2 separate regions of the Homo sapiens genome follow, and region 1 is linked to region 2. The links come from fine-mapping of genetic effects on gene expression. A gene starts in region 2. The other region holds a variant in brackets. All regions are shown on one strand. Distances are between the middles of the regions. Region 1 has its middle 6.7 kb from the start of POLD2. Region 2 holds the start of AEBP1 (AE binding protein 1).

Region 1 (2,901 bases), 26 kb before region 2:
TATGACTAGGTGTGGTGGCAGTTTTCTCCTTAAGAGACAGATGTTTGTGCCTCCCTCCAACCCGCTGGCTAACACCTAGCTGGCACACAGCCTCCTGGGGCTATGAAGATGAGGGCCACAGCCACAGGGTGGGGGAGCCGTGAGCTGGGTCTGGCTGCGTCTCTGACATATGGGGGCATCACACATCACCTCTACCTCCCATCGAATGCTACACGAAGAGAACAAACTCCACCTGATGGAAGCTGCTGTTGTTTGAAGTCTTTCATGCTCACAACAGAACCTAACCCCAACCAATACAGTATGAGTATTGGCCCCACGTGGTTAAGCAAGCTGTCCAAGGTTACACACAGCTGGGAGGTGGTGGAGCTGGGTTTGAGCCTGTTATTGACCTTTGTGCAGACAGACCTCAGAGCAGAGCACAAGGCAGCAAGGCTGTGGGTCTGGGGCTCCCTCTCCAGGAGAATCAACTGGCTGCACACAGCCTGGAGAGCCCATGGGCAACCTGAGTCCTTGCACCTGGAAGTTTCTGTGTCCCACACATATCCAGGAGCTTAAAATGAAGATGTCTGAATTACCCAACCTCTTGATAGCACCAACCCAACCTTCCCAGCCTCCTCTTCTGAGGTCAGCCCAGAGCAAGCCCCTTGCAAAGCTGATTTAACTCAGAACCACTGGGCATACCCACAGGGCAGTGACCCTGCAGCCCTCGATCAAATGTGCAGATGGACTTGGGGGTGGGCTGGTACCCCAGATGGCCTCATTCTCCCAGGGTTGCAGAGCCCCTGAAAGCCACAGCCCTGTGTGCACACCACTGGGGAGTCATCACAGGATACTTCAAGAATTCAGTGCCAGGCAAGGTGGCTCATGGCTGTAATCCCAGCACTTCGGGAGGCTGAAGCGGGCAGATCACCTGAGGTCAGGAGCTAGAGACCACCCTGGTCAACATAGGGAAACCCCATCTCTACTAAAAATACAAAAATTATCTGGGCGTGGTGGCGGGTGCCTGTAATCCCAGCTACTCAGGAGGCTGAGACCGGAAAATCGCTTGAGCCTGGGAGGCAGAGGTTGCAGTGAGCTGAGATTGCACTGCTGCACTCCAGCTTGGGGGACAGAGTAAGACTCCATCTCAGAAAAAAGAGTTCTGTGTATCATTTAATGTGGAGATCCTCCCATCACGAGGATGAGGCTGTTTCTCTACTCCCCAGATCTGGGCTGGCCTGTGGTTTGTTGACCTCAGCCTTGTAGTTCTCACTTTCCTGGAACCTGAATGCCACCACGCGACATCCATAAGACAAAGCCCAGGATAAAAGATCACTTGGAGAGACAGGCCTGGCCTGGCACCACCCCGGCTGAGGCTGGACCCCTGGGAAGGAGACTCTGATGGACCTCCAGACCCAGTCAAATGACCACTTCCAAGGTCAGGCAAGAAGGGACAAAGAGCCACTGGCTCAGCCCACAGCATCTGAGAAATAAGAAACCGCTGCATTTTTTGAGCCAGTAAGATTTGACAGGTTTGTTTTGCAGCAATAGATGAGTGGTACCTCATCTTAGCCCATGTTCTGATGAAGACAAACAGTAGCATTGACAAAGTTTTAAGAAAAGTTAACCAAAAACTGGGATTCCTTTCTTCATTTTGACCCTTTGTTACAAGAAACAGAGGCCCACCCCACCAGACTCACTGTTCACTGGTCCCTGAGTGCCTGTGAGTCTCAGTGGGAGTTACC[T/A]TGAGACCAGCCCTTCTGAGTGGAGGGTGCTGGGTGCTGAGGTCAAGTCGAGCTCAGTCCAGGCTAAAAGGAGAGCAGCTCTGGCCAGGCTGTCAGGGCTGTGGCCTCCCCAAGAACCTCCTACCCTGGCCCCTCCAGGCTTTGCTGCTATGGTTGTGTGAGGGGAGTTGCTGTCCCAGCATTCTGGCCCCCTTGCCCCCAGCCCCTCCCTGACCTCCACGGGCTTCAGGCCTCAGTCCAGAGTCACCTCCTCTAGGAAGCCATCCCCCAGTGCAAGTCTGGGCAACATTCCTCCTTGCCTGGCCCACCTGCTCACTCTCATGCTATGGCTTTCTGTAAGCAAACACAAAGATAGGAACAACTCTGTCCCTGGCACAGAGCAGATGCTCTGGCAATATCTCATGAGTGAATGAAGGCACATGACAAACCTCCAGACCTGTGGAGACTGAAGGCTGAGAGCCTTTATAGATGCTGTGGGGCCGAGGAGTTTGCCAACTACAGCAGGTCATGCCCAGAGGTTTCTCTCTGGGTAGCAAGGTGTGTCTCCCACCAAAGGCCATTGGCATGGGGCCCGCCCTGCTGACCCGAGGCAGTGCACAGCAGAGGCCAGATGCAGTGAGAAGGAGCCTCTCCTTGGCCTGCTGTCTGCTGCCATGCCTGTGGGGGCGTGGACACAAGTGTGTGGCATAGAAGGTGGTGTGGCAGGTGAGAGGTTGGGGGTGTGTATGTAGCAGGTGTCTGTGTGTGTATGTGCATGTGGGGGTGTGTGTGCATGCATGTGTGTGTGTGCATATGCACGTGTGTGCATATGCATGTGTGTGCATGGAGAGAGAAGACCTCCTCTTTCTGGCCCCTCTCCTAGCTGCCCCCCTCCCTCCTGCTGCCAACACACTGTCAACCCTTCACTGTCTTTTTCCTTGGGACTCGTTGATCTGTCTCTACCATCCCAGGTGTCTGGAGCAGCCTCTAACCTTCCATCTGCCAAGGTACTTCAGCCCCACCCCTCCCAGCTGTGGAATGTCCCCTAGGATGTGCCACTGACACAAAGAGCCACACAGCTCCAAAATAGAATATTATCTAACCCACTGCTCCCTTTGCTGTCAGCAACACCTCCACCATGCTTCTCCCAGGACCCCCCTTGAACTCTCTGCTTCCTCCCTGAGGCCAAAGGAAAGAC
Region 2 (2,901 bases):
CAAAGAAAAGGGACACTTGGTTGAGTATTGAAGCCCAAAGAAGAGGAAGTGGTCTCCTTTCGAGAAGTAAGGGGTTTGGAATTGATTGGAAGGATAGGGAGTCCTGGGGGGTTCAGGGATCACACAGAGGACAGAAAAGACAGGTAGGGAGCTTGTGGCTGCACACTCATTTCAGAGTCTGGGAGAGGGAGCAGGGACTGGTTGTGAGGATTCCCCATGGGAATCCTCCCAGGACCCTAAGCAGGAGCTGCAAGTGCTGTTGAGAACCTGATGAGAGGTGGGGAGCATGAGGGAAGTTTGGCAGAAACACAGGAAAGCTACCAAATGCAGACAGCCAGGGGACGCAGGGCTGCTAGAGCGGTGCCCCAGAGCCAGGAGAGCAAGCCTGGAAGGAGAGCCAGAGGCAGGAGGGGCACAGGCAGCCCAGGGTGTGGGAAGCAGCCAGGAAAGATCTAGAGCTGGGGTGGCAGGGGAGGGGCTGCTGACATCAGGAATGTTGGATGGTGCCTTGGAATCTCCTGGGAGACAGGGATCACAAGACCCTCTGCCACCTTCCAGAGGGCCACGATGAAAACAGCTAAGATTTACTGACAACTGATTATGCAAGAGGCCGTGGGTTAAATGCTTCAGTGATGCATCACCTCATCTAATTTCCTGTACTAATGTAGGACCACCCATTGCTCACCACCACCTGAAGCCCTGTGCTCACCACCACCTGAAACTCTCTCACCTACGTGAGACCTCCTGGAGTAGGAGGGCAAAGGCAGGAGGGAGGGACGACGTGAAGCTGTGCCACCAACAGGGAGAGTGGTCCCATTAGTATGGCAGGGGGTGACACAGCACAGTCCCCTGTGGCTCAAGCCTAGTACCTGTCGCGTACTGGAGGAATGGGGATAAGCGACCCGTACAACCACAGCACCAACCCTAGAGCCACCGGCCCCCAAAAGCGGCCCTGCCGCCCGGGTGCTGGATGTGCCTCCACGCCAGCGCTGACCTCGGCCTAGCACAGGGTCCCTCCAGGCATCTGGGCTCGCGTGCGCATTAGTAAGCCAGCCATTCCTCCCCTAGCAGACTGGGGAGTGGCCAGACCCTACCGAATCCCCCTGTTCCCACCTGAGATGCCAGCCCCCCACACCCCCGCCCTGCCCTGGGCTCTTACCTTCTGCGGCCGTCCCTGGCCGCTTCCCTGGCTTGCCCCCCGCCTGGGCTTTTCGGACCCGCGGGGTGGGCTCGGGAGGCGGCGGGGCCTCCACGTCGTCCTCCCGGGGCTCAGGTTCTAGCTCTGACAGGAAGCCCTCGAGGAACTCCTCGATCTCGTCGTCGGTCAGCACCGTCTGCGGGCGCCCTCCAGGGCACAGGGCCAGCAACGCCAGGAGGCAGCTGAGCAGGGGCGCCCCGCGCACGGCCGCCATGGCCGCGGCACGCGCGGGGGGCTCCGGGGAGGGCGCGGGGGGTCAGGGGCTCTGGGTCTCTGGGAAAGGGCGGAGAGGGGATCGAGACGGGTGAGGGAATCCAGGAAGGGGCGGGAGAGAGGATGGGGTGAGCGAGGGAATCCGGGAAAGGGAGGGAGAGTGGATTAGGGTGGGCGAGGGGACCCGGGAAGGGGTGCTGGGGGGCTCCGAAGCCAGAGGGGCTCAGGGGTGGTCGGGGCGCTCCGAGGTCCTGGCGGCTAATAGGCGCTCCGGCCCCGCGTGGCGCACTCCCGCGCGGATAGCCGTCTCCAAAGCGCTGGCGGGGCCCGGGGCGGGGGCGCCGGGGCTTCCGGAGCCGGCTCCCCACCCCCGGGGAGGAGGAGGAGGAAGAGAAGGAGGAGCCGAGAGTGGACGGAGGGGCTGCGGGGGGGCGGGGGGCGGGGGGCGGGGGGCTAGGGGCGGGGCAGGCGGGCGGGCGCTGGCGGCGAGCGTCCCAAGCCCGGAGACTTGCGCCTAGGACAGAGGGGCAGGGGGCGGGGCGACTGGGAAGACAGAGGGCCTGAGGGAAGGAAAGGTGGTGGGGAGGGCCTGGGGTGCGGGTCTGAGGGGGCCGACATCCCTCCTCCTTCTGCCCTAGGCACCCCCCTTAAGGCGGGACCCCGAGTCCACCGGGGCTCTGAGCCCTCCGCGGGTGACCAGGAACCCTGGACGGAAAGCCGTGGTGTCAGGCCTCTGAGACCTCTCTCAATTCGGAGGGCCACAGAAAGGCCACCCCATCCTTCCCAGGCTCTGGAGCCTCTGCCCATGGGCCCTGCTGCATCCCAGCGTCAATTCATTCAGTCATCCTACCAACCTCTTCAGGTCGGTGTGGGGCCGGGCCCCGTGCTGGGCCCCAGGGAGGGACAGCACAGTGGGAACTCACTTTCCAGCCAGGAGGCAGGTGCAAAACTGCCCTCAGAGTGGCCAGCTGCCCCGCTGGGGGTAGGAGTCCCATGTAAGGGCATGCCATCCCTCCCCTCCGGGTCCCAACGTGGACAAATAGCCATTTATCACCTTCTTCTTACCAGAACTCATTTTTTAAAAAGTGTCTACCATACCTCCAGCTGCCACATGGACCCAGAGGGCCCAGAGGACCCAGAAGGCAGGTGGATTGAGTGTCAACTGATCCCAGGATCCATCAGGGATGTGCACCTTGGTGCCTGGTGTTTGCCATAAGGCTTCTCCAGGGCAAATGTTGGCTGCCCTACAACGGCCATCAACAGGCAGAGTGGTCCCATTAGTATGGCAGGGCGTGACACAGCACAGTCCCCCGTGACTCAAGCCTAGTCCCTGTCTCATACTGGAGGAATGGGGAGCTAAGGACAGAGCTCCGAGGACATTCCCCCTTAAAGGAATGAGGACACAAGAGAAAGCTCACAGGTAGTCCATGGGCCAAGTGCAGAGGCAGACAGCCCTAAGCCACGATTGTCTGCGGGGTTTGGCCCCAGTG

The links. PIP is the estimated chance that this variant, and not a neighbour inherited with it, causes the effect.
Region 1: its variant is fine-mapped to the expression of AEBP1 in whole blood (INTERVAL, PIP above 0.99).

What each region holds. Positions count from the first base shown.
Region 1 is chr7:44,128,797-44,131,697 of GRCh38, reverse strand. No RefSeq gene overlaps it. Among named protein-coding and RNA genes, the nearest start is that of POLD2, 6.7 kb to the right of the region's middle. The variant T/A (reference allele first, on the strand shown) is at 1,725.
Region 2 is chr7:44,103,177-44,106,077 of GRCh38, reverse strand. AEBP1 (AE binding protein 1) reads right to left here and starts at 1,733. Exons shown (of 21, transcript NM_001129.5): 1 at 1,160-1,733. The coding sequence starts at 1,412.